Linked DNA regions of Homo sapiens. The protein of the gene in region 2 binds, or shares a complex with, the protein of the main gene of each other region. Each region holds a gene or a part of one and is shown on either strand. Other genes may lie near its edges. The genes, in order: GAL, GALR1 and GNAO1. A codon is read from its position in the direction of its gene.

The links.
Region 1: the proteins of GALR1 (region 2) and GAL are in contact, whole or in part, in a cryo-EM structure (PDB 7WQ3), measured with the Homo sapiens proteins. Residues at the interface, in NP_001471.2 of Homo sapiens: Glu32, Gln92, Thr94, Val95, Tyr96, Leu98, Pro99, Thr100, His112, Gln174, Phe177, Arg180, Gln184, Phe186, Cys187, Trp188, Glu189, Gln190, Ile266, His267, Ala270, Phe275, Leu277, Ser281, Phe282, Arg285; in NP_057057.2 of Homo sapiens: Gly33 (codon at 3,777), Trp34 (codon at 3,774), Leu36 (codon at 3,768), Asn37 (codon at 3,765), Ser38 (codon at 3,762), Gly40 (codon at 3,756), Tyr41 (codon at 3,753), Leu42 (codon at 3,750), Leu43 (codon at 3,747), Gly44 (codon at 3,744), Pro45 (codon at 3,741), Val48.
Region 3: the proteins of GALR1 (region 2) and GNAO1 are in contact, whole or in part, in a cryo-EM structure (PDB 7XJJ), measured with the Homo sapiens proteins. Residues at the interface, in NP_001471.2 of Homo sapiens: Thr70, Arg133, Ala136, Ile137, Ser140, Arg141, His226 (codon at 5,010), Leu227 (codon at 5,013), Leu231 (codon at 5,025), Asn233 (codon at 5,031), Ser235 (codon at 5,037), Lys236 (codon at 5,040), Lys237 (codon at 5,043), Ser238 (codon at 5,046), Ala240 (codon at 5,052), Ser241 (codon at 5,055), Lys244 (codon at 5,064), Thr245, Thr248, Leu306, Ser307, Glu308, Asn309; in NP_066268.1 of Homo sapiens: Ser264, Asn316, Glu318, Tyr320, Asp337, Asp341, Ile343, Ile344, Ala345, Asn347, Leu348, Arg349, Gly350, Cys351, Gly352, Leu353, Tyr354.

What each region holds. Positions count from the first base shown.
Region 1 is NC_000011.10:68,678,874-68,689,385, reverse strand, and holds the start of GAL (galanin peptides preproprotein), read right to left. Parts: upstream 4,843-10,512; 5' UTR 4,654-4,842; intron 4,463-4,653; coding exon 4,382-4,462; intron 3,793-4,381; coding exon 3,738-3,792; intron 1,546-3,737; exon of another isoform or gene 1,383-1,545; intron 1,373-1,382; coding exon 1,286-1,372; intron 595-1,285; exon of another isoform or gene 538-594; coding exon 460-537; intron 1-459. UniProt on the Homo sapiens protein: Endocrine hormone of the central and peripheral nervous systems that binds and activates the G protein-coupled receptors GALR1, GALR2, and GALR3.
Region 2 is NC_000018.10:77,251,158-77,261,190, forward strand, and holds part of GALR1 (galanin receptor type 1), read left to right. Parts: coding exon 1-57; exon of another isoform or gene 58-294; intron 295-5,000; coding exon 5,001-5,066; intron 5,067-10,033. UniProt on the Homo sapiens protein: Receptor for the hormone galanin. The activity of this receptor is mediated by G proteins that inhibit adenylate cyclase activity.
Region 3 is NC_000016.10:56,334,489-56,341,488, forward strand, and holds part of GNAO1 (guanine nucleotide-binding protein G(o) subunit alpha), read left to right. Parts: intron 1-240; coding exon 241-369; intron 370-2,242; coding exon 2,243-2,372; intron 2,373-6,345; coding exon of another isoform or gene 6,346-6,499; intron 6,500-7,000. UniProt on the Homo sapiens protein: Guanine nucleotide-binding proteins (G proteins) function as transducers downstream of G protein-coupled receptors (GPCRs) in numerous signaling cascades.

The DNA.
Region 1 (10,512 bases), on a different chromosome or scaffold from region 2:
GGAAGAAAAAGGAAGGAAGGAAGAGAAAGAAGAAAGAAAGAAAAGAGAGAAGAGAAAGAAAAGACAGAGAAAAAAGAAAAGAGAAAAGGTTTAGGACGGTTCACAAAGAACTTGGCCTGTAGTATACCTCTGCCCTAAAAGGTACAGCAGTTGTCACCGTGTGAATAGATATGGTTCCAGTAGAATGAGCTGCACCCTGAGGCCCACTCTCTTCCTGGGACCAGCGCTGGCCCGATGGCCCTCCACGACGGTAGAATGCCCCTGCCGCAATCCCAGCCCTCTGGAGCTAGCTCTAGTGTTACATTCTCTGTTATCCCGACACACAGCCAAACAGGACTTTGTACGTAGATAAGTAATCGGCTACTTCCCAGGGGGATTCTATGGGTTCTCTTCTCGATGGGCCTTTTACGTTTCCAGTGTACTAAGAGATGAATGTTAAGTTGATGATATTTCACATACCTTTGAGATGCAAGAAAGACAGAAACTCAATGATTGTGCGCATGATATTGTTTTCAGGTATGGACCTGTCAAAGCTTCCTAGAAGAGAAAAGATCAACATTCACGACTTGTGCAGAGGGTGCTTCAGTGTCTCAGGTCATCCCCCTCCCTACAGAGGAGCTGGGCGCTGCAAGGTCAATGATCTGATCCCAGCAGCCTGAGGCCCTGCTGTGCTTTCCAAGGCCCTTGTTCAATGTGAGGGAGTTGGGGAGATATCCAGTTCGAGGCCTCGCTTTTCTTCTTCTTCTTCTTTTTAATTGAGATGGAGTCTCACTCTGTTGCCTAGGCTGGAATGCAGTGTCATGATCTTGGCTCACTGCAACCTCCGCCTCCCAGGTTCAAGTGATTCTCGAGCCTCTGCCTCCCAAGTAGCTGGGATGACAGGCACCCACCACCACGCCTGGCTAATTTTTATATTTTTGGTAGAGACAGGGTTTTGCCATGTTGGCCAGGCTGGTCTTGAACTCCAGACCTCAGGTGATCCACCCGCATCAGCCTCCCAGAGTGCTGGGATTACAGGCAGGAGCCATCGTGCCCAGTCCCGCTCTTCTGGAGGCCCTGGTGCCTGGGCAGCCTCCCAGCCTAGAAGGACCCCTTGCTGTCTCGGGTTTGCACGTTCTGTTTGCAGCTGCTGACAGGTGTGGCGAGGCCACATCGTCTTAGTCAAGTCATGGCCAGGCTTGGGCTGCAGCTGTGGACAGCCCCGACACCCACAGCTGTCCCCTGCATGCACCTGGGAGCTGGTGGAAGTGAGGTGCCCCGGGGCCCGGGATAGGAGTCCTCTCACCTGGTTTCATGTCATCTTCGGGCCGCAGCTCCCGCTTGCTGGTGAGGCCATTCTTGTCGCTGAATGACCTGTGGTTGCCAACGGCATCTGTTTGCAGATCAGAGAGGAAAGCCTCTGGGTGTGACTGTCATGCACGCCCTCCCCACACCCAAAGAAGGACACAGGGCTGCCTGTAGCCAACACACACACGCAACTCGACTGTGAAATAGAGCCCAGGGACAGACACCAGAGCAGAGGGAGCGATTCTCCACCCAGCTGAGGTAAGAGCTTGGCCGCTCACACCAGGGTCAAAGGGAATGTGAGGGTTTGCACAGGGTGGGTGGGAGAAAGGGAGGTGTGGCTCCTGAAGTGGGGGAGAGGCCCAGAACCTGCCCTGTTGCAGGGGTTGCGCCTGGGTCCAGAGGAGCTGGCATCTGAGCTGGCACTGAGCTGGCATCAAACTGGGTGACTCCCTGGCAGACAACAGGAGCTGGGTCCTCATGTCCCTGAAAGCATGGGGGACGCTGAAGAGTTTAAGTTGTGACTGAATCTGATTTTTATTTTCACTCTGGCAGCTGTGTGCAAGATGGACTGGAGCCAGAGAGAGAGAAGGAGAGAGACAGAGGGAGCGAGAGGGTCACAGAGGGAGACAGGATGGGGGTGGGGGGTGCAGGAGCGTGTGTGCGTTCCCGTGTGTGTGTGGGTGTGTTTCGTGGTGCGAAAATGGAGGAACTGTGATTGCAAGCACAGAGATCCCAGAATTCCAGGGAAGAAACGATGAAGGCTGTAAACCAAGAGGCGTGGGGTGAAGAGGAGGGCTGGATTTGGGGCTGTGCAGGAAAGGAAATGGAAATGAGAGATGGGGACGAGGGTGAGGACGCCTCTGTGTTTCCAGCTGGTTGGCCTGGGTGGACTGTGCCATCTACAAGGCCAGACAAAGGAGAATTAACGCGTATTTCCAGAGATGCCGTTCTTGGTGCTAAATTTATAGAGGAATCATAGGTCGCCTCATGTCACTGATGCACCCTCAGCCACGGCCACACTGCGTTCAGCAGCAGCTGGTGCAAAAACATTGCTTTTGCTGCATTTCTAGCAGATCCTAGAAATCAAAGGCACATTTTTAAGTATTTTGACAAACAACTCGTCTAGCTACAGCTGAACAGGGCCGTAAAATTGATGGCGAAAATGAGTTTGTTTTCTAATTAGGGGTCAAACTCTTCTTGACAAATAGATTTTCAATATTCCAAAGCAACACAGATAAATGTTCTCATTGACCAGTTCTGCCTTTGTTTTGGGCCCGTAGCACACAAAGATGAGGTGCCCTCTGAGTGGCAGAGCTCAGGGTTGCAAAGGGTTGAGGAAATCAGCCGACCCTCAGGCAGGTCAGGCCACTCCATGGGCAGGGAGAGGATGAGAGGGCCGCACAGAGACCAGCAGGCTCTGTGGTGAACAGCCTGGACCGATCCGCACGCGGCCTCAGGCGGCTCTGTCATCCCCGTGTCTGTTTCTTAAAGCCTGACTCTGGGGGTCCTCTGAGTGACCCCGATAAACAAGCGTCTGCAGGAGGAGGAAGCTGTATTCGACTCTGGGACTGAGAACTAAGTCAGCTTTCCTTGGCATGGGGAGAAGAGCACCATTCTCCCCATTTGCTGCTCCGCGGGGCTCAGATAGGCCCTGCGTGCTGTTCACATCCTTCCTCTGGCAGAAGGCAGTACAGGGAGGCTTTTAAGGTGGATGGTGAGGTGTGGAGGGGAAGGTGAGTTACAGGAGGGAACCAAGGCCTCCTCTTGTCCCCTCCTTTGGAGGAAAGTCAGAAGGCATTGCTGCACAGACCAAGGATGTGGAGAAAGTAGAGGCCTGGGACAGGGGCGGGGGCGGACACGGGGAGGTGTCAGCCTGCAGTGTCCCATCTAGGGCTAGGGCTCACCTCAGGCAGCAGGGGACACCGCTGACACAGGTGACAACAACAGGACAGGGAGAGGGAGGGGACACAGGCTTGGGCAGGCAGGGTCACCTGAACCTTGTTTTGAGGGGAGCCTGTCTGGGCTGCCTTCAGGCGATCTGGCAATTCCCGTGTGGAGCTTGGAGAAAGGGAAGAGGGAGGCAGGATTTGGGGTCCGCTGACCTAGGGTGCTCTGCAAGCCGAGGAGTTGAGTGTTTTGGGAGACCCGGGGGCCTGGGGAGAGGCCCAGAACAGGGCCTGTAAGGACTGCAAGGCGGGAAAGCCCAGGAGAACTTGAGCAAAGCCCAGGGTGGGAATCTCACCCCGGGACAGGGCGGCAGAGCCGGGGCAGGAGAAGCTTCTGGAAAGAACCGTACACAGATCAAGTGTGCAGAGCAATGGAGACGGGCAATGAGGTCAAGAGGGAGGCCAGAGGGTCTGCCCAGCCGCAGGCGGAGGGGCAGGAGCCAGGGTTCAAAGCGAGGGGCAGGTGGGGTCAGGAGTGGGGAGGCCATGCTGTCAGTCACTTACGTGGGCCCAGCAGGTAGCCCGCGCTGTTCAGGGTCCAGCCTCGTTTTTCCTTGGCCTTGAAGGGAGAAAAGGGGATCAGATGCCAGGGCTGTGCCTGGAGCCTATGCTGAATGGGTGCACCCAGGCTTTCCCGGCATGGCAGAGGACTTAGAACAATGCATGTGCTTTTGGATAGCTCGCGAAATTCCAGGTTTACCCCTAAGTCGGCTATATTTGACATGAAAATGGAACCACTTTATTTACGAAATACTTCACTTGAGGGCCTGAGCCCGCGCACTCTCAGCGCACTGCACCTGCTTTAGTGACGCTGAGGCCACGCCAGTGGCTCCTAGCCCTCCATTCTAACTAAGCCCTGCGGAACGGGCGAGCTTCTCGCTTTCCCGAGGCGCTGACCCGAAGCGCAGAGCTCTCCCGGCGGCCTGGTTATAGCCCGGGGCTGTTGATACACTCGGAGAAGCGCGCGGGGGGAATCCCAGGGAGCCCCGGACCCTTCCCGCGACGCCCGCAGCCAGGACAGCGCCCGCCTTTCCACTTTCCACCCCCATCCCCGCGGGCAGGGCGGAGGCTGCCTCCTCCAGGAAGCCCTCCACGCCCGGCCGGCTCTGATGTCCCCTTCGCTCGGAGGAGACGCGCCCCGCACTTACCGGCGACCAGAGCCCCGCAGAGGCAGAAAGGGCCGCGGCGAGGAGGAGGGAGGCGAGCAGGAGGGCGCTGCCTCGGGCCATCTGGAAGGGAAGGACAGGGCGGGCGGGTCGGAACCCGGAGTGGGCTGCGCCCCGAGGCAAGGAGTGCCGGGGCTGCGGGGAGGAGCAGAGGCGGCGGCCGGGCCAGGGCCCTGGCAGAACCGTCCCTGGGCAGAGGAAAGCCGAAGGGGAGGCCTCCCGGGGGCGCAGGGTCGGCCCGGCGCCAGTAGTACCTTGAGCTGCGGCTGCGCCCGGGTTCGGAGCGTCGGGGTCCGGGTGCGGTGGCGGGTCTGGGCGGCAGGTCCGGGCGTCGGGCCGGGTCGGGTGGGCTCTGGCGGCCTGGGGCGCTCACCGCATGGCGCGGCCGGCAGCAGGGGCAGAAGGCGCGGGCCGGGTCCCTCCACGTGTCCGCCGCCCGGTGTGGCCGCCGCCACCGCCGCCGCTGCTATATATGCGGCGCACCCGGGAGCCGCCCGGAGTCGCGTCACCGGCTCAGCGCCCGCCTCCTGCACCCTCGCCGAGCCCCGAGGGCGACGGGAGTGACCCGAGCTCGGGTCCTCTGGGCCATCATAGGCGGGTGCGGCGGAGAGCCCCCCCTCATCCCGCGGGAGAGACTCCCCCAAATCTGCAGAGAGAACCCCAAACCCTGTGGGAGAGACCCTAATCCCGAAAGACAGAGCCCAATCGCCCCGCGGGAGAGCCCCCAGACCCGTGGCCCAAGTCATCGCTGTGGCGTCAACCCCACTGCTCCCCCCGGGGTCCCAGCCCCAGAGCAAGCCTGACCCCCCACAACGTCCCACGCCTGCGGTCTCCCTGCAGCTTCTCCTCCCAGCCCCTACCGCTGCAAAAGCCAGCTGAGCTCCGCAGCACTGGAGACCCCAGAGGGTGACGGGCAGGGACGACTCCTCAGTCCGAGCCAGCCCCAGCTGGGAGGTCATGGGGTACCCGGGGAATGGCGGGCAACACTTGGCCCTGCGCCCTGGCCGGCTTGTGCTGGGGCTGGAGCGAAGGTTCAGGCCTCGGGAGCCGTCGATGGCGGGGAGGGCAGGCGTTCCCGGCTCCCTGTGCCCAGCGACCTCCCTCCTGTTTCACTAAAGGGGGGCTGTGGATCTCAGGGTCTGCTTGGCCATCCCATTGTGGGAGCTGCGGGACCGTCGAGCATCCACAGGCACCAGCTCAGAAGCTCGGCCTCTCAGTGCCTCCCCTGGCTGCCTGGTCCAGTTGTAAGAGGGAGCTTTAAGCAGGTCCAGCCATTGGGCAACTGGTTAGGTCCAGAGGGAGAGCAGCCCAGACTCCCAGAGGCCGCCAAGGGGTGGGCGGTGGGCAGAGCAGCAGCAAGAGGCTGTCCTTGTGCCCAAGGCAAAGACATCCCACAGGAACAAGGCCCTCCTTGGCTCCTCCACAAACCCTTCCTGAGCTGGGGCCAAGTCCCGAAACAACCCAGGAGAGAACCCAAGCCTAGGCTGTTCCTTCACCCCATTCCCAGGCATCAGGGGAGCACAGGATCCCAGGCATCACACTTGTACAGTGTGGCACCTCCGGGCTTCCGAAGAGCACGGGGTCATCTGCTGAAAACTCGCCTGACCTCCCCTCCCACTGGCCAGACACCACCCAAGTCCTCAACAGCAGCAGCTGGGTTAGGATCTCCCCACCCACTGGGCTCAATATCAGATGGGTTGATGTCACATCTGTGGGTTGATGTCCACAGGGCACAGGACGAATGATGATCATGACAGTGTCATCTTACCTGTCCTCTACACTTTAGTCTTGGGAACCTTTGCACAGACAGCTACAGGCTGCCCCCAGGAGAGATCCGTCTGCCTCCACGTGGCTGGGGAAGGACAACTGGGCTTTCAAGAACTCTGGCGAAGGCCAGCGGCTGCTGGAGAAGGTGCAGGGCTGCAGCCTGGTGGCTGAGTGTCTGCTGTGGTTTATGGGAGGAAGAGGAGGAGACAGGACTTGGGGAGGGGTCTTAGGAACAGACTCCTGGCACGACAGTGGTGAGGGGTGGGGTGTTCCCAAGGGCACAGTTTGACTTCTGGTCATCCCTATTTCTTGCAGCCTGGGGAGAGGAGAGTCAGGCACAGGGGACCCTAACTAGGACTCACAGGCTGATTTCGGAGCCCACAGTAAACCCTGAAGTGGTTTCCTGCCGGGAGTGGGGGCGTGGGAGACAGTGAGTCGCCATGAGAGTCTGGGCCAGCCGTGGGCAGAAGGACAGCCGAGAGGCGGAGGAGCAGAGGGCACGTTCCTGTGACTCTGCAGAGAAGTGACAATGATGTCCTCTCATGCCCCATGTCCTTGTGTCTAGATGACATCAGGGAGTGGGCAGGGGCTGGGCTCATGGGTGCCTCTTGGCTACCTGAGAAATACTGCAACCTTTGGCCCCCGGTGGTAGTGGGAGCCCTGCTACCATCCCAGAGCTCTTTCTTGCTTTCTGCTGAGAACAAATCCAGCCCAGTGCATAGCACATCTTAGTCAATTCCAGCCTTCTCCTTTCTTCCACGTTAGGCCCCCTTCCAAATCCTGCCAGAGCTTGACTACACTTATTTTCTCTATTTACTTTGTCACAGAGGCTCTTAGTCTGTTTAAAGGAGCACAAACTCTAAACCTAAATCCTTGAGATGGATTCGAAAAGAGACTCAAAGTCCATCCCTTAGTCATGGGCTGGAATTTGAGGTACATTAAACTTTCAGCTGTCTTCATTTGGGCCTATGTACTCTTTTTGTTTCCTTTTTTGCTTTCAAAGAAACTTCAGACTGGGCGCAGTGGCTCACGCTTGTAATCCCAGCATTTTGGGAGGCTGAGGTGAGTAGATAGATCACTTGAGCCCTGGAGTCCAAGACCAGCTGGGGCAACATAGCAAGGCCTCATCTCTACTAAAAATAAATAAATAAATATTTTTTAAAAATCAGCCAAGCATGATGGCACGTGCCTGTAGTCCCAGCTACTCAGCTCAGGAGGCTGAGGTGGGAGGATCACCTGAGCCCAGGAGGTTGAGGCTACAGTGAGCCACGATCAAGCCTGCACTCCAGCATAGGCAACAGAGCAAGTCTCTGTCAAGAAAGAAAGAAGGAGGGAGGGAGGGAGAGAGAGAGAGAGAGAGAGAGAAGGGAAGAAGAAGAAAGAAGAAGAAGAAGGAGGAGGACGAGGAGGAGAAGGAGAAGAAGAAAAGAGAAGGAAGGAAAGTGAGGAAAGAGAAAGGAAAAAAAGAAAAATAAATTTCAGGCCGGGTGCGGTGGCTCATGCCTGTAATCCCAGCACTTTGGGAGGCCAAGGCGGGTGGATCACAAGGTCAGGAGATCGAGACCATCCTGGCTAACATGGTGAAACCCCGTCTCTACCAAAAATACAAAAAATTAGCCGGGAGTGGTGGCAGGCGCCTGTGGTCCCAGCTATTTGGGAGGCTGAGGCAGGAGAATGGCGTGAACCCAGGAGGCGGAGCTTGCAGTGAGCCTAGATCGTGCCACTGCACTCCAGCCTGGGTGACAGAGCGAGACTCCGTCTCGAAAAACAAAAAACAAAAAACAAACGAAAAAGAAATTTCAGGGTAGGTTATCTGGTCAGAGCCTCCTTATTAAAAAGACATTAAGCAACTGGAAACAAATCTTCACATGTATTTTGAATTCATTTAAGAAAGCTCCATTGAATAATTAGACACATGTATTCAAAATAAACATGCCCATGCCTGATTCCTCCAGGTCCCTAAGTTCTTTTTCCACGTGGGATGACACCCACCGTCTTGCTTCCCGCTTAGTCTGGGTGAGTGGGTCTCGGTATAAACCCTGGCTGGGACCCTGGCCCGGAAGTGCGGTGACCATGGGAAGGCTACAGACAAGCAAGGCAGTGGCCTGAAGGCGTGCTGGGGTTTCCTGAGGTCGGCAGATTCCTTCAGACAAATGAGGCCAGCACACCTGGGATGACAGACACCTGCCTCCCGGCACAGACTGTGCTGGAACCACAGCCAGTGTGCTAATGGCTCTTTGCTCAGTAATGACCCAATGGCAGTCATTGTCAACCTGTCATCTTGAAGACAGCCCAGTGTGCAGCAGACAAAGTGGGTCACCATTAGAGTAATCGAAATCAAGCAGAAAGCCTGATGTCCCCCGCTGCCTTCGAGCCAGCCCATCTTCCTTAGAAGCGCTGTCCACCACCAGGAAAAACCACCCTGAAGCTGAGAACTCAAGCAAGGGTCAAGGGTCACCTGGGCCATGCCCACTGCACGGGAGCTCAACCGTCCATTGCCTGGCAGTGGAGCTGCAGTGGTGAAATCAGCAGCAGGGTCCCTGCCCTTGCGGAGTTAGACCCTCACGGAGACCCATTACAGTTGGCCCCTCTGTATCTGTGAGTTCCCTGGCTGTGGGTTCAACCCACTATGGACTGGGTCCTTGTAGGTAGGCCTAGGATGGGTTTCTCTGTACGAATACGTACAGACTTTTTTCCTTGTCATTATTTCCTAAACAATACGGTATAACAACTATTCATGTAGCATTTACATTATACTCAGTATTATAAGTAATCTAGAGATGATTTAAAGCATGTGGGAGGGCCATCGCGGTGGCTTATGCCTGTAATCACAACACTTTGGGAGGCCGAGGCGGGCAGATCACTTGAGGTCAGGAGTTCGAGACCAGCCTGGCCAACATGCCAAAACCCTCTCTCTACTACATATACAAAAACTCAGCCAGATGTGGTGGCGGACATCTGTAATCCCAGCTACTCGGGACGCTGAGGCAGGAGAATCACTTGTACAACTGAACCCGGGAGGCAGAGGTTGCAGTGAGCCGAAACGGCGCCACTGCACTCCAGCATCTGGGTGACAGAGTGAGACTTCATCTCAAAAATAAAAAAGTTAAATTAAAAATAAAGCATATGGGAAGATGTGCGTAGGTTATATGCAAATACTATGCCATTTTATATAAGGGACTTGAGCATCCACGGATTTCGGTATTTGCGTGGCCAGGGGTTTCCTGGAACCAACCCACTGTGGACATGGAGGGCCAACTGTATGCAACAAATGGTTATTGTACAAATAACCACCCCATTGTCGTGGGAAGGAGATGCATGGATTAGGGGAGCTGAACCTGACAGGTGAGCAGGACTGACTGGGTACAGAATGAGGTCCAGCACACTCCAGGTGGAGGGGGTTACATGGGTACGCCCCCTTTTTGGTCCTTTTCCATTCCTTCTTCCTGCTGCCTGGAGTGTGGACGTGAAGGCTGGAGGTGGGCAACGAATTTGGACCATGAGGTGATGGCTTCAGGTGACACATCAAGGCCGAGGGAGCCTGGGTCCCAGTGACCCTGAGCCTGGTCCCTGGGCTGCACACTTCCAGGCTTGTTTCACAACAGAGGAGAAGAAGCATCTCTCTTATTTAAGCCAATGGCCCATAGAGGTTTTCCATCACGTGCGGTAGGAATTGTTCCAATCAGTTTCACAGTGGTCAACAAATGTTTGATGAATGAATGAATGAATGAATAAAAACACGTGAGAGGGTACACCACCTCCACCGCTGCTGAGAAGCTCATGTCTGCAAGACGGGCTCATCAGAGGGAGAGGTTTGGACGATAACGTGACGAACGATACCACCTATCAGTCCCACGACCATCTCGTTACTACTCAAGAAATGAGGAAATGGCTCGATGACCTAAAATTGGCATTTCTTTGACCCTGCAAATGTCTGTGTCCTTGATTCCCCCATTCCCTGATTTCCACGCCACCCAGCCCCACTCCAGTAACACAGCAGTCATGAAAAAAGACCCTAGAGTCGCTCCCCTAAAAAAATGAGTAGCTGGCAAAGGATCTGGCTAAGGTGAAAGTTGTATCAATGGATAGAATTATACCATTCTATGAATGAGTTTTTAATATATGTATTCGATTATTCGACAGAACCTTGTTAAATGGGTTCATTATACAGGGTTGTTTCATTCACAGAAACAATTGGGTGCTTTTACTAAGGGGTTAAGGTAGTAGAAATTGGAGTTTCGAGTGCAAGCTGAGAAGGGAGAAGAGGAGGAAGAGCAAGTTTTGGAGGTTTGAGGACATTGGGTAACAGAATGCCATCTTTAAAGCAGCCTTCTGGAAGATTCTTT
Region 2 (10,033 bases):
ACCTTCGTCTTCGGCTACCTGCTGCCGCTCCTGCTCATCTGCTTCTGCTATGCCAAGGTGCACGCCGGTCGCGGGGCCGAGACGCGCGAGGGAGGGCGGAGGGCCGGTGGGGGCCCTGGGGTCTCAGTGTCCCGCGGCCCTGCCGGAGCCTTGGCGGCAGCCTGGCCCCGGTGGTCCCCACTCTGGCGGCGCTGGTACGGATCTGTGCAGAGAGGCTTCCTGGCCGCTGCTGGAGCGTGCCATTGGCTTGCGCAAGAAAGTTACTTGGAGTCTGAGAGATGCTGGGGAAAGTTTGCAGTTCACTTCGCATGGTCCAGTAGAACCAGTTTCTCCTCCCCTCCCCTTCCTCGGCCCTGCGGCCCTTCAACGCCCCCAGGTTGCCTGGGCGGTAGGTAGGCGGGCGCTGCCGCATCCTTCCCGGTACAGCAAACCCCGCTCGGTTCCAGCAACTCTTCAACCAGATCAGCTGCGCGGGGAGGTTACCGCCGCGGCGCTGTGGGACCTGAGGAGAGCTCTGGTGGTCACCAGAGCGCGGACCTTTTGCGAGGGTGACGGGTCCCCACAGCTCCCTCCCGGGCTCTCAGCTGGCCGTGGCGGGGGGGACTCGCGGGGCGGCCCCTCTCCCCCGGGGTGCGCAGTTTGCCCTCGCTCCGAAGGCTTTGCGCACACCGGGCTCTGTGAAGCCGCTGCTCCCGGGGACAGAGCCTCGAATTTTATTTTATTCTGAAGCTTAGCTTTGTAAACCCAAGTGCAAAAGGGTGTTTCTTTACAGAGTCTTGACCGCAGGCTCCAGGAACTTGGAATGGAATGGACTCGAGCTTTCGGCTTCCCCATTTCAATCCTTTTTAGAAAGGTCTCCTGAACAGGGTGAAGTGGTTGAGGCGGCGGGTCTTCACCCTAACTGTAGCAGAGGCACCGTCCACGCGTGTGGGAGATAGTTTTTCCCTTTGTACAGCCGGGCAGAGCTCAGCACTCACATTCTTTTTCTCATTAAGTCCACAAGGGTTTGAAGACTTTATACTGATCAAAACGTCTTCAGCCTTTGACATACGTGTTTTTATTTGCGTAAACGGGAGCTTATTTTAATAATCAGGTGATGGCGATTCACCGGGTAAACCCTAATGTGCGCAACCTCCTCGCTCCAGAGCATCGCCATTTGAAATACAGCTGTTACCAGTTCCACCCGACTTCACCGCTGTCTCTCATTCTGTTTCAATAAGGCTGTGACTATACGACCACAAATAACCTGACTAGGTAGAACAACTATCACTTTTAATACTCAAGTCACAAGGTATTTTTATCAACAAAAGTGTTTACTATAAGCCACCTGTTTCCCCCCACCTATTTCATCTAGGTAGATTGTGTCTATTTTGAATAATAATATTGCTGGATATTATCTGAACGGCCTGCACCAAAAGGTTAAATATGAAGAAATACAGTACCACTTTGGGAGGCCGAGGTGGGTGGATCACCTGAGGTCGGGAATTCGAGACCAGCCTGACCAACAGGGTGAAACCCCGTCTCTACTAAAAATACAAATATTAGCTGGGTGTGGTGGCGGGCCCCTGTAGTCCCAGCTACTCCGGAGGCTGAGACAGAAGAATTGTTTGAACCCAAGTGACGGAGGGTGCAGTGAGCCGAAATCGTGCCACTGAACTCTAGCCTGGCTGACAACGGAGCGAGACTCTGTCTCAAAACACCACCACCACCACCACCACCACCATCACCACCACCACCATCACCACCACCACCACCACCACCACCATCACCACCACCACCACCACCACCACCATCACCACCATCACCACCACCATCACCACCATCACCACCATCACCACCACCACCACCACCACCACCACCACCACCATCACCACCATCACCACCACCACCACCACCACCAATATAGTAGCAGTAAGGGAATTTGGAAAAGAACTCTAGCTTAGCTATTTGGAAAATGGCTGGTTTATTAACGTGGTCTTCCGCAGATGCTAAACAAAGGCTATCTTACATAGCACAATTATCTGATATGTGCACCATCTCATTTAATTTGCACAACTCTGTGGCTTGGAGCTATTTTATTATTTACCCGTATTTTATTATTTAAGGAAAAAGAGCTTTGGAAAGGAACACCTGACCCAGATTATGAAGCTGGTGAATGATTCTGGAAGGATTTTAACACAGGGATTCCCAGTCTTCTGAGGACGGGACAGTTGGTGAGGCCTTGAGGACATTGAAGTCTGAGATTGAGATTCTTAACATATATGGCTGTTAAGTTCCTAATTACTGTGGAGAACTGAAGCACACGCTTCCTTATTTCCCCAAAGCCTTCAGGGAGAAGAGCTAAAATCTTCTTACTGGAAATGACAAAGTAAGATTTTAGGAGTAAATTGAATTCAGCATAATATTCATAATATTTGCAAGTTAATTTCAGGGCTGTCATGGATAGGTGGAGATTTCAGTTATTTCAAGTTGATTTTCTTTGGCTCAGGCATTAGGTGTGCACCATCCAGTTAAGGATTTTGCTACTTGAGTATTAGTTTCAGGATTAGCTGTTCCTCCAAACCCCAGGCCTTTTGGATAGCCTGAAAAAACACAGATGGCTAAAAGGGAACCTGAGGTTATGATGCTTTAAATAAACAAAAAAACTTAAGACAATTGCATTCCAGAGTTGCCTTTTGCCTCCAAATTCTCACAAGTTTGTAAGGGAGCAGTCTTTTGCACCAGACAGTTTCTGGGAAACTCATCGAATACATGGGTGGGAGGATGAGTCGAAGTGGTCTGCCCAGTGCCCCCTGAAGAGCCCTCCCCTCTGCTGCTATGGAGCTGTTCTTCACCAGGTCTGTGCCCCTCGCTCACTTCCCTTAGAGTGAATTACTGTCCAGAATCTCCTTGGTCTACCATGAGGATAAACTCAATGGGCCCACTCGACTAAGTTACTCCGAATCCCCAGGATGTAGCCAGCAGGACCTGGGTTTGGTTTGAGCTAGCACCTTCCTGTGCACACTCAGAAATTTACAGACTCACCAAGAGACCCCAGTATGTTATTATCACTCTCTTCTTAAACGTCGTCATACCCTATCATGGTACCTACATTCTTCCTCCTTTGCTGCTGAGACCTTCAGTGGGGTGCATCATAATATATCATTCTGTGCTCATAGTAGGAGCTATTGAAGAGAAGCAGAGCTAATAAAAATAGACTTGAGTATTTTCTCCATTGACCATTTAACAGCATTCAACATTCTTGGGTGTTTTGAAGTGGCTGAGCTGTGATCCGAATTCCTTTTTGGAAGGAACAATTGGAGCTCGGCAGCGTTATGAAGCTGGTCACATTTGGACATTTTGTTGTGATTTGTCCAGGTGTCCCTCTTTGATTTTGCTTGTGCGGCCTCTCCTGTTGTCTCTCCTGTGTCCTCAGTGACCAGTGTTGTCCTGTGGTTTCCCATTGGGAAGGCTGCCACTGAGCCATCTAGGCAGTCCTGTCCTCTTGGGCAGGGTCCTGCCTCCTCCAGCCCTTTCCTTCCCCTTTGAAACGCTCTCATTTGCTCCTGCAGGAAATCCCTGTTCTGTCGTTGCCTTGCATTCAGGTTTTGATACTCCCATTTCGGCTGGTAGAACAGTAAACTAACACCTTGTCAATGTATTGAGTGTTTTCCCAAATGCTCCTGCGGCACGTAAACACTTGTTTTGTTGCAGATGTTGCTGAGTCATTTCAGGAAGTGGGAAGCATTTCGGTAGGGGAGAGAATTTAAAGTCAGAAATTCACGTCCCTGGGGTGGCTGCTTGTTCACCTGCATAGGGCCTGGGCAGCTGGTAAATATATCCTGTGGCTTCCAAGTAAGGTGTGACTAATTGCTCTGAAAGTGCCTCATCTGGCTGAATGGAGCAGGCTTTTGCAATAAGTTCAATTCGATTAAATTATTTCCATGCTACAGGGAACAAAGAACTGGTTGGAACATGGCTTCCGGTTCCTTGAGAGACTTCTCAGCAATCTACAGATGCTCTAAAGCACTTAGTCGCCCTGGGGCTAGATTTTCTCTAGATTTTTCCCTCAGATGGGATATAGCAATGAACTTAAGTGACAGTTCTGCAGGCTTGACAACGTTGTCTAAGACCAAATATATGTTGGAAATTCCTACATCTAAAACCCCACATTTTCATATCATTTCTCCTGAGTATTACACTGGCAAGAAAAGACAAAAATAGTTTCTGTAATTGAGGGAGTCAGTGTGTTTCAAGGAGATTCCCTGACAGGGACATTAATTGTCAAACCTTGCAAAAATGTTCTGTAAATCATCAGTGACGCTGAATCCCCAATAAGTTGTCTGAAAGCACAGCACAGTGGGTAGGATTTGAATAAAGAATGAAAGGAAGCCTGATGGGAGGTGATTTGCCATACGGAGAATTGCAGTGGAGGCAGCCCATAAGAGGAAGGAGAAAGAATATTTTGGCACAAACGCTGGCAATATTTGGGTTGGCTGCACTGAAGAAATGTCTGATGATATTATCTTCATTTGTTTACTTGCCTGCTTTCCGCATCAGATGGTGAATTTTGGAAGGGCAAATCTCTAGTTTTTCGATGCATCCAGGATCTAACTTTGTGCCTGACATGTAGCAGGGACCTGGTGTTTATTAATATATGGGGTCCTGGAAGAAACCAAGGAAGACAATAGTGTAATAAGCACACCTGAGTGGGTCATGGCATGGCTGTTTCTGGGCAAAACCCCAGAGCTCCACGCCCTGGGCATTCTCTGCAAACAGGTGCTATGGCTGTGAACTTGTCTGGCTGTGCATCAGCCTTCCTGGCTGCTCCTAAGTGTTAGAAAAGAATGTATTTGGCAACTCATGTTCATTGTTACCTAATTACCTAATTTGAGTTTTTATTTTAATGATCTTATAAATAGTGATGTTACCATTTCAGCATGTCAATAATTGTTAATGCAACATAGGCAGTGGGTTATGAGAGGTGAGGCGAACTGATTTCAATAGTCTGTGTCTTTCAGGTCCTTAATCACTTGCATAAAAAGTTGAAGAACATGTCAAAGAAGTCTGAAGCATCCAAGAAAAAGGTAATGATCACAAATATATATATATATGTTACTTTTCAGAGCTTAGTTTACCTTTGTTTTTTTTACTTGTCCTCACGTCCATCCAAAGCCTGTAACATTTAGGACCCTTGGTGTGGCTAAGGAGGTTTGAGATGAGCCTCCCACCGTTAGGATGGGAATGGAGGGTCGGCCTTGGCAAGGGCACCGTGGGTCACTCCGTGCTGCATTCAAACTTAGCTGAAGATCTGGGGAGATGAGGAAATGCGGATTCTGCTGATTGTGCGCCTCACCAGGAGGTGAGTGCACTTAGGTTGACTGAGACAGAGTGCAGAGTGCAGAGTTGCTGACATGCATACTTAGAGGGAAAGTATAGTCATTTTGTTTTATGTTTTCAATCTCTGATGTGATTCCGAAAAGCCCTGGTTTGGTTCTTGTTTAAGACAACATTGTTATAATCCCTCCCTAAAGCCACCAGAGTGCTGGGCCATTCTTGCCTCTTTCACCCACATGTGCTGACTCTGACCCGGCAGGTAAAGACTGAAGAGTGGACAAGGCTGAAAGCAGATTCCTCCCGTTGCTAACTGACTTTCTCATCCCCCAGCCCCGATTTAAACAAGCTTCTCCTGAGTGGTATTACAGCATCTAACTTATTGATGGTCATGATATTCTACATTTTGGGGGAAAACTATTTCACAAATCAAGGTTAAATGAACTCTTACTCAGAAAATATCTATATAGCTTCTAATTTTAGGAAGTAGAATGAGATTATTAGGCAATATGACTAAGGAGTAGGAGGTTATAACCAGATATTTTAACCCAAAAGTGTAATAATAACATCTTAAAATACCTTGTTTTTTCCTTATATTTATTATGATCAATGACATACCTAATTTATAGAAATTATAGTTTAGATCATGTTTAATCATGTTTACTTAAAAATTCTACTTGAATAAAGGACAGCTCTTCCTGACTTTCCTTCTTTATGAACAGTAATGTGGCTAAAAAGCCATCTGATAGTCCAGAGTCAAAACCAGTGGTAGAGAATTGGTTATAGAGCACAAACATTAAGACTTTTTTTTTTCCCTGGCAGCAAAAAATTAGCTTATGTTAGAAATGCAATCATACAGTGTTTAGGATAACCACCTAAGAATACAAGGTGCAGTATAAATAACAAGACCATGCTATGGCTTTATTCCATTGATCCTTTCTTACATCTGAACAATTATTATGAATATTTCATTTTAGGCATCTAGGCCCCGCATTAGAGCAGCTGACCAAGTGCTAAGTTATATGAATGGAATAAACCCTGTAAGTTGGTGCTTTCCTCCTCTCTTTTTAGTGATGTGCTGTTATGGTAGAGATTTTCCATTTTTCTGGTATATCTATTGATTTTTCCTCTGAGTCACACTTCTTATTTCTAAGACAATGGTTCTTTAAAGACAATTAAGGATAGTTTCTGACTTCTCCTAGGACAGTTATTTTTAGAGCACCTGCTCTGTGTAGGACCAAGCCGATCCAGGGGATTCTAAGAGGAACTGGCTCCGCATGGAAGCCAACATTGTAATGGAAGAGATCAATGTGTGAGTCCCAGAGGCCTGTTCAAGGGGGCAGTGTTTGGAGCATCAGGGAAGGGAGAGATTAATTTCCCTTGGGAGGGATTGGGCTCGTCAAACTTTAACTGAGAAGACACCATTGATCTGTGATAAATGTGTGTTAATGATTCAAAAGATTTTATGCTTACCAAAAGAAATAAAACCAAACATTTATTTAACATTTGCTGAATCTTACTTGTGTCGATGGTAGTTTTAGTCTCCATATTTGAAAAAGTATTGGAGAGAAATTGTGAAGGTCTCAGAGAAGAACAAAATACTGAAAAAATAGGTCTTATAAAAATGATTAGAAAAGCTTCTATTTTATTTTACAATAAAAAACCTAAAGATCAGTGATTAGTTCAGTCATTAGTTATATACACATACACATATATACACAAATATTTAGATTTATGTGAGTATATGTATATATAATACATATGTGCTTACATATATACATATACTAAATATATCTATATAAAATTATCTTTTGCTTATTCTTACCATGAGGATCTAGCATTTGAAGAAGGGATGAAGATTTTCTTTTTCGTTTTCACAGCCTCTGACCCTTAACAGCTACTGAACAGATGTCAGATCTTTGTTGATGTATTTAATTGCCTCCTTGTTTGCACAGAATAAATAAATGTGGTGGTGGTGGTGGTGATGATGGTGGTGGTATTGGTGGTGGTGATGGTGGTGGGTGGTAGTGGTGGTGATGATGGTGATCATTGTGGTGATGGTGGCGATTGTGGTGGTGATGGTGGTGGTCATAGTGGGGGTGGTGGTGGTCATGGTGGTGATGGTGGTGGTCATGGTGGTGATGGTGGTGGTGGTGATGGTGGTGATGGTGGTGGTGGTCATAGTGGTGGTGGTGGTGGTCATGGTGGTGATGGTGATGGTGGTGGTGGTCATGTGATGGTGGTGCTGGTGATGGTGGTGATGGTGATGATGGTTATGGTGGTGATGATGGCAATTGTGATAGTGATGGTGGTGGTGGTGGTGGTGATGGTGGTGGTGGTCATAGTGGTGGTGGTGCTGGTGATGGTGGTGATGGTGGTGGTGATGGTGGTGGTGATGGTGGTGATGATGGTGGTCATAGTGGTGATGGTGGTGGGCGGTAGTGGTGGTGATGATGGTCATGGTGGTGATGATGGTGGTCATGGTGGTCATGGTGGCGATTGTGGTGATGGTGGTGGATGGTGGTGGTGGTCACAGTGGTGGTGGTGTTGGTGTTGGTGGTGGTCATGATGGTCATGGTGGTGATGATGGTGGTCATGGTGGTCATGGTGGCGATTGTGGTGATGGTGGTGGATGGTGGTGGTCACAGTGGTGGTGGTGTTGGTGGTGGTCATGGTGGTCATGGTGGTGATGATGGTGGTGATGATGGTGGTGATGATGGTGGTGATGATGGTGGTCATGGTGGCGATTGTGGTGATGGTGGTGGATGGTGGTGGTGGTCACAGTGGTGGTGGTGTTGGTGTTGGTGGTGGTCATGGTGGTCATGGTGGTGATGATGGTGGTGATGATGGTGGTCATGGTGGCGATTGTGGTGATGGTGGTGGATGGTGGTGGTGGTCACAGTGGTGGTGGTGTTGGTGTTGGTGGTGGTCATGGTGGTTATGGTGGTGATGATGGTCATGGTGGTGATGATGGTGATCATGGTGGTGATGGTGGTGATGGTGGCGATTGTGATGGTGATGGTGGTGGTGGTGATGGTGGTGGGTAGTGATGGTGGTGGTGGTCATAGGGGTGGTGGTGATGGTGGTGATGATGGTGGTCATGGCAGTGATGGTGATGGTGGCGATTGTGATGGTGATGGTGGTGGTGGCGATGGTGCCAGTGGTGGTGGTGACAGTGGTGGCAGTGGTGGTGGTGGCAATAGTGATGATGATGGTGGCAATTGTGGTGATGGTGGTGATGGTAATGGTGGTGGTGGTATGTGTGTGTCTAAGAAAGAGATGGGAGAGAGGAGCAGAGAAAGGGTAAGAAGAGGGTGTGGAAGCAGAGGCGTGATGAGAAGGGAGGTGGCGGAGAGAGGGGGACAGAGGCAGGAGAGGTGAGACAGGGGAGACTCGGGAAGGAAAGCAAGAATACATGGCAACTTCCCTGAAGACAGGAACTGGGTTGGTCCATCGTGGGTATTTCCCCAGGTCTCAGCACAGAAAATTGCTACTGGTGCACACGTGTTCATCATTTGATTGGTAATGGAAGATGTGACAGGGATTTGGCTACTTGTTTCCAGCCCTTTCTCTCAATGTATAAGTAAAGTTCCCTTTCTCAGCTCTGTATCCACTGGTCTTAGTACGTTCAGGCTGCTTTAAGAAAATACCATAGTCTGGGTGGCTCATAAACAATGGAAGTTTATTTCTTGCAGTCCTGAAGCTTGGAAGCCTGAAATCAAGCTCCTGCAGATTCAGTGTTTGGTGAGGGCCGTTTTCTGGTTCATAGATGGCCCCTTCTCTCTGTATCCTCACAGAGTGGAAGGTGAAAGGCAGCTCTCTGCGCCCTCTTTCATAAGGGGACTGGTCCCATTATTCATAGGGTGGGAGGTGTAAGGCAGCTCTCTGGGCCTCTTTCAAAAGGGCACTAGTCTCTGTGTCCTCATAGGGTGGGAGGTGTGAGGCAGCTCTCTAGGCCCCCATTCATAAGGGCACGGATCCCATTATGAGGGCTCCCCCCACCTCATGACCTAATTACCATCCAAAAGCCCCACCTGTTAATACCATCACCTTGGTGATTAGGTTCCAATTTATGAATTTTTTGGACGGGGTGGGGACATAAACTTTGAGATGGTGCCGCCGTCCATACGGGGCTTTCCTGTTGAGAGTTATAATTATTATGGGGTGGGGAGATTGGTCTTTCATGATAAACATGCTAACAGTTATTCTCCATGTTTGGAGCAAGTGCAAAAGAAGAATAGGATTTCTACTGCAGGAATAAAGGGCTAGGATTGATCACATGCTTTTCTTAAACTCTGCTAGACATAAAGAAATGTTTCTGGCTCAAAGCTGATTGTTAAAACCTTGGAAGACCTCAAAATGGGATAGACACCCATACTGGATGGTTGCTTCCTGGAGAAAATTGGATTAAAGGACCTCTTGATGTCCTATCAAGCCACTGGGTTCTTTTAATGTTTGCTTTTTTTGTTGTTTCTTTGGCTTAAAGTAATTCAGTAAGGTTTTTGGATGTCATTTATACAATTTGTGAGGTTTTTTTTTTTTTTATCATTCTCACCTTTTATTCAGTTCTTTTCTCCCCAGCCAAATTCCATTAGACATATTGTGAGTAAAATTCTTTGAAGAAAGAACAGACATCTCAGATGATTTGAAAAAGAGCATCTCACAATAAGAAGAGAGACTAATATTTTTTCAGATACTTTCAGCAGAAGGAGCACAAAGA
Region 3 (7,000 bases), on a different chromosome or scaffold from region 2:
TGTCCCGGGAGCTGCATGCGTAGCCCTTTTGGCTGTGAATGAGTGCGTGAGGCCAAGACCCCTAAGACCCACTTCCTCAGTCGCCCCCACTCCCTATGGCCTGGAATGGAGGTGATGTCTTTTCCACAGTGACCTGGAGGGGCCCTGACCGAGACTGGACTCTGAAGATGGGTGGCCTGGCCAGTCCCGAACAGTGTCCAGGCATTTGGTCCATAGTCCCCTGTTTGTTGCCATCCTCAGCTACCTGGACAGCCTGGATCGGATTGGGGCCGCCGACTACCAGCCCACCGAGCAGGACATCCTCCGAACCAGGGTCAAAACCACTGGCATCGTAGAAACCCACTTCACATTCAAGAACCTCCACTTCAGGTGAGGCCCAGAGAGGCCCCCAGGCCCTGGCGAGGGCTAAGATGGGACATGCCCAGCCTCTCAGCGCATTGCGTTTACAGCGCCCAAACATCATCCTGCCCCAGGGAACCTGCGGGCTGGGGCAGGCAGCTAGATACTAGAAGGAACCTGTCTGTGTTTCTGCCAAGGTTAGGGGCTGGAGTGAGCAGGGAGGCTTTCTGGAAGAAGATTCCCAGAGTGGGGCTGTGAGGAACAGGGAGGATTTGGACAAGGAGGGGCAGCCTGTCCCTGAGGTGACTTCCAAGGAGGAGGAGGAGGTGGGCTACCAGGGGGCCCTTCCAAGGTCACCTTGGGGGGAGGAGCCAAGAGTGGGGCTGGGTAAGCCCAAGCTACCTCTGTGAGACCCTGAGGACCCAAGTAATCCCAGAGCTGGAAGGAGCAGAGAGAGCTGACCCACCCTCTCCTAGTACGCTTGGGAAGCTGAGGCCTGACAAGAGCAGGGCTTTTCCCAGGCACAGAGCACAGCTAGAACCCAGGGGCTCTGGGGCCTCAGAGCAGGGGCCTGACGGGTGAGCTGGTTCCCAGGGTCCTGCTGCAGCGCTGTGTCCCCACCTGCAGTAACATGCGTGCACTGAGGCCTGCTCCGTCCTGTGGGGAAGAGAGGCCAGCAGAGAAGGGGAGGGCAGGGACCCCTGCTGGGAGAGCTGGATTCTAATATTCCCTGCCTCCCATGTCCCCAACTCCTGCCCGCTCCTGTTCAGACTGAGGGGCCGAGGCTCTGGGCCCAGGAACCCCTAGGCCTCCGCAGATCTGGGGAGCAAAACCTTGGGCAGAGCAGCCCTGAGGGGCCTCTCTTGCCTTCCCAGGCTCCTTGGTCTCTCCTGCTCCCCCACTGGGAGCACAGGATGGGGATCTCAGCTCAACCCAGCCCAGCAAGGCGGGGTCTGAGAATAAGCATTCTGGAGGGGCCACAGAGGCCATCTGCCAACGCCCCTGCATTTCAGATGGGGAGGTGGGATCCAGGGGAGGATCCCCTGATTGATGGAATGAGAACCAGACCCATTCCTTGCTCTGAGCCCACACTAATCTCTGCCTGCAGTCACTCCGTTGTGTCCGGTGGGACCAGAGATCCTTCCCTGTCCCCCTCTGGCAGGCTGTGTGTCAGCAGGCATCCCAGATCTAGGAGGCTACAGGACTCCTCGCTCTGGGGATTGGGGTGGGAGACTGACCTTTTACTTCCAGGACGTAAGTCCCACCTGCCCACAGTCTCTTCCAGAATTTTTGTGCCCCCTCGGGAGTAGAGTCTGAGAGGGGGAAGAGGCCAGGCTCTGATCTGCCAGAAAGGGGCCGTACTGGGCAGAGGTGAGAGCGCCAGCTTTGTCCACAGCCAGACCCAGCTCCACCACAGCTGGACTCTCGCCAGCTTGGGCATGTCCTAAGCCCATGGGTGGCTCACTTCTGCCATCCACATAACAGGTGACATCTCCTGCCTGCCTCCCTCCCAGGCTGGTTTGGAGTTTGCCCAGAGCAAACCCAGGAAGGAATAGACTGAGAGGAGGGTCCTCATGCGAGGAGGACTCTCAGAGGCACTTCCTGGGGGTGGCTCAGGTGCGCCCTCTTAGTAAAATGCTCCTCAGATGCAAGGGCAGGTCTTTGAGTCATGATCTGTGAGCACAGCCAGTCCCAGGACAGACTCCAGGGGTAGTGCCTGGGGATGGCAGTGATCCAGCTGTCTGTCATCACCTGGAGTGACAAGGTCTTCTAGTGAGGGCTTTTAGCAAGGCTCTGAGCACCATGGCCCCCATCCTCTGCCTCTCAGCGTGCTCACAGCTTAATCCCCAGGCAGCCCTCACCTGCCTGGACCCTGCGCCTACCAGCTCCCTGCCTCCTACAGGCTGTTTGACGTCGGAGGCCAGCGATCTGAACGCAAGAAGTGGATCCATTGCTTCGAGGACGTCACGGCCATCATTTTCTGTGTCGCGCTCAGCGGCTATGACCAGGTGCTCCACGAAGACGAAACCACGGTGAGTGGCCTGGGCCCCCCGGGCAGGGGGCAGCGCTGAGGAGACGGCCGCAGGATAGGCCAGCCCTCTGAGCACTGGGCCTCGGGTGCCCACAATGGCTCTGGGGTCCAGCCAGCTGTTGTGGTTAGAGGTTTCCATCATGGACAGGCCGTGCCGGCACTCCACCAATTCTGTATTGCCAAGGCAAATGCCTCATGATGCCAGTGTGGCAGAGCCTGTGTATGCAACCTGATCACACAGAGCCGTGCAGAATGTGCCTCTTCCATAAACTTGGTGGAGTCACAGAGGCCATCAGGCCATAGCAAATTTAAGCAAACCCTAAAAAAACCAGGAGGCAGCCAAGCAAGAATGTACAGGCAACAGAAATAGCAGTCTTAGCCTGACAGCCATCCCTGGGGCACTGGCGTCAGATGCTGCTGAAGCAGCATGGGGCCGGGGATGCTGAGGGAGAGGTGGGGAGGGCCCAGGATGCTGCAGGAGAGTTGCGTGGGGTTGGGGGTGCTGGGGAGCAGTGTGTGGGGCTGATGGGCCAGGAAGGGCAATGGGGATGAGGCATGCTGGTGAGTGACAGTCGTGGCTCTGGGCTCCTTTGCCAAATGCCAGACCAGGCTCCTACCTTCTGTCTTGCGTCACATTCAGCCTAGGGCCTCAGTGAGGGGACATTCCCCTGGGAGAGTGCAGCCTTCCTCTGGGTCTAGTCCTGGCTCTGCTACTCACTGGCTTGCTGCTGAATTTAGGCAGCACCCTTTCTGGCTCAGTTACTATTTTCCATAAAAGGGAGATAATAATAGTACCTGCCTGTGGGGGGCTGTTGGCAGTGGGGTGGGTGATGCGTGTGCAGCGCTCTGGAGCTGTTTCTGGGACAGCAGCGCCAAGCTGGTGGTTGTACAGTTGCTGGTGATTGCCCTGAGCCTGCAGGTCCACTGCGTGGTCCCCTTCTGGGCTGCAGCCCGCCAGGCACCGAGCATGGCCCACAGGGTCACTGGAGACAAGCCCCAACACTCCTGACAGCGGGGCCCATAGGCTATGGGGTCACAGCCTGGCGTCTGTCATCTCCTTCTGTCTGGAACACATGCAAATCCCCCACCCCACGCCTCTGAAGGCTGGCACCGAGGGTTTGAGGTTGGAGGTGGGGCTTGTTGTCATGCTGGGCCTTGAGCGAGGCCTGTCCTCTCTCTGGGTCTGTTTCCTCGTCATTTCTGGCCCAGCTGGTCCACTGGGCTTTGTGAGGATGGGATCAACTTTGGGGTGTGGGCTACGGGGCACAGTGCTATAGGGAGGAGGAGCCGCCGCCCTGAGGGGCTTACACAGAGTGATGGGGCTTTGGGCTGGTGGTGTGGGTAGTCTGGACCCGTTCCGTGTACAGGCTTACCCACCTGACTCTTCCTATTTCAGGCCCACCTGTACCCCTGACTTGGGTTTCTGCTGTAATTGTTCTCAATGGCATCTGCAGGCAGTGATGTCAGTCACCAGCCCAGTCTTGATGCTGAGTGGGGCAAGGGTGGATGCGCTTCCTGGGCCGTGCTTGGACCCAGACTCACTGACCACCCAAAGCCCAGGTCAGCTTCCTGGCCATGTGCCCCTCACAGTGACTACCCAGACATTTCCCACTCCCCACTGCTAGACTCTATGCTATTACGGCCACTGCTCCAACTCCTGGGGTCTGAGCTCCACTTGGCTCATCTTTTTTCCCCCATGTCCACCACGGTTTCAAAGAGAGCAAAGGAGCTAGAAGCAGGAAGCCAGGAGGGCCCTTCCCCCTGGAATCCAGCCTCTCCCTGGACCTGCCCTGCCAGGCCTGTGGATGGCTTCAACCCAAGTCCCAGGCCCACCGGCCATGGGGCTGGGCTCTCGCTCACCTCTGGAAGATGGAAGCAAGGGACGTCTGGGTGAGCCTAGCAGCCACAGGCCCTGAGCTCTGCAGCCCATGGGTCCCCAGTGAGCATGAGCCTGGTGCTGGGCCTGGCACTGGGTGACCTTCCAGCCTGCGGGCCTTGCTGCCTGGAGCACTTGCCCTCCGGTCTTCTCCACCTTCTCTCACCTCCCTTTTTCCCCATTTCCCCCACCCTTCCACACAAGGGCTGGAGCAGAGGACCTTGGAGAAGCCAAAGCAAATGGAGCCAAGGTCACAGGCAGGCTCTTCCTGTGTCCTTCCTTCCCCAAGGCTGGCCACCTTTGCAGCCCGGGGAAGAGTAGCAGCTCGTGCAGGGAATGGGGATGACTTTGCAACCTGACAGCAGCCACAAAGGCAGCTCATTGCCGTGGTGGCAGCAAGAACAATACTGGCGCTGTAGAACTAAGCAGTCATCGCCGTGCGCTGGGGGCGCATGCAGAGGTGGACAGCTTGGGAGTCAGACAGATCTGGTCCAGGGTCTAGCATCACCCCTGCCGCCTGTGTGATCATGGGCAACCGCCCCACCCTGCCCGGGCCTGCACCTCCTCCTCTGTAGATGGTGACAATGGTAGAATGGACCACCGGGCTAAAAGCTGTAAAAGTGCCTGTACACAGGAATCATCACTCAGTGAATAGCTCCTGTGGCTACAACATTCAGATGCCATGGCTAGAGGTCAGGTTCTAGGATGTGGGAGCTCTGTCTGCCTCAGGGAGGCAAGAGCCAGGCCCCAGGAACTCAGGCCTTGGTCCTCAGCCATCCTCTCTGGTCAGCGCTGTGCATCCCTCTCTGGCCTGGGGTGAGAGCCTGCAACAAAGGTGTCTGGAAGCAGCTTCTGGAGCCAGGCCAGGAGAGCCCTGGGGCTAGTGGCTGCCACTGGCCATCCAGCCGCCCTGTCCGCTGCATCCCGGGAGCCCGAGAGCCTGGTCCTGGCCTCGTACCTGCTCTCAGCACCGCCCAGCCGGGCCTGCGGCTGCCACAGCTTCTCCACTACCACGGTCGCCTCCACTGCCTGCAGGGCCTTATCTTGCCAAACCAAGGCCAAAACCAGTTCTGAGAGACCCTCCAAGCCCGGAAGGTATGAAGCACCTCCCTCCAACTGAATCCATCAGCTAAGAGTTGAAAGCAGCAGGTTCTCAGGGCACCGCTGGGTGACTTTGCTGTGATGCCTGCCCAGCCCGCCCCTGCGCCCACACTCCTCTCCAGCCACTTGGCCTGGGCTCATCCCACCCATCCTGCATCTCTTGCCCTGCAATCCACAGGCCCAGGATGGCCATGGCCCCTGTGAGCCCGCACCGGGCTCTCTGCAGGAGCTAGCCAGGATGCCCTGGCCCTGAGACTGGTTGAACCAATTTTTCAGTATTTTTCTCTCTTTCTCTTGTTGGGTTTTTATCTTCTCTGTTTTCATCTGTTTTGCTGTGTTTCATCTTGGGGTTCCTCTGGCCCCTCTACTGAGAAACCAGCCCCAACAACCAGTTCTCCCAGAGCCTCCCCCGCTCCAGCCCACCAACGAGACCACCAACCACACCAAGGCCACAGCAAGCTCACCCCCGAGACGCTATTCCCTGGTGTCTGCTTCCAACTCGGGATTAATTCGAGGATCTCTTAGTCCTCAGTTAATGTTTCCCAACTGAATGCGTGCACCCTTCCAACCTTGCTGTCAAAACCGAATGAGACCCTGGTAGAGAAATCTGCATGAGCAGGGTTCCGCGCAGATGCGTTCGGTGGTGGTTGCGGCCCCTGCGCTGTACGTGCATGGTGCATGTCCTCTCCGTGAGCTGGAGCCTCTCCAGTGACCTCACTGCCCCCACCTGGGGCCAGCTCTCTTTGGAAGGGGGCAGCATCCCCCAACCCTGCCCGGCCCTGCTCCGCCCCGCCCTGCCTGCGTGTGGAATGAAACAGGACCACGTCCCGTCTGTCCTTGTGGGTCCTCCCGTCTCCGTCCTGGTGGTCTCCGTCCCGGTGGTGCATCCAGCCACATTGGTGGACCTTCCCTTTGCTTGTCCCGCTGTGTCATTGGCCGCGGTGGGTCAGGGCCCTGGATGCTGCCGCCCCTCACTCACCCCTCCACTCTGTTGCAGAACCGCATGCACGAATCCCTGAAGCTTTTTGACAGCATCTGCAACAACAAATGGTTCACAGACACGTCCATCATCCTGTTTCTTAACAAGAAGGACATATTTGAAGAGAAGATCAAGAAGTCCCCGCTCACCATCTGCTTTCCTGAATATACAGGTAGAGACCCCTCCAGGGACAGCAGGCCCCCGAGGGAGCGGGCCCCGTTCCCAAAGCCCAGTCCACCCTTCCTGTGCTCTGTGGATGCCCCTGACTCTGCCACAGAGAATCCACACAAACGGTCCCCCACCCTGCCCCCAGATTGTGCTCTAGAGAGGAGGGGCAGCTAGCCGGGGCTTCCTCATCAGGGAAAGCCGGTAGAGCCCTGGCTCTGCCACTTACGAGCTGTGTGACCATGGCGGCCTCTGGGAGCCTGAGCTCCACTGTCTGCGCACAGGGGCTCTCTGTGACGAGACGAGCAAACGCCGAGAAGATGAGGGGCGGGGCACAGAGGCTTGGAGTTAGGCAGCCCAAGGTTTATGCCCCAGCTCCGCCACTCACAAGCAGCTCAGGCAGGTCATGCAGCCTCTCTGAACCTCAGTCTCTGGGTCTGTGAGATGGGGTGATGGCTGTGATTGCCCTCGCCTCCCTCACCAGGTGCTATGAAGAGGGAATGAGCTG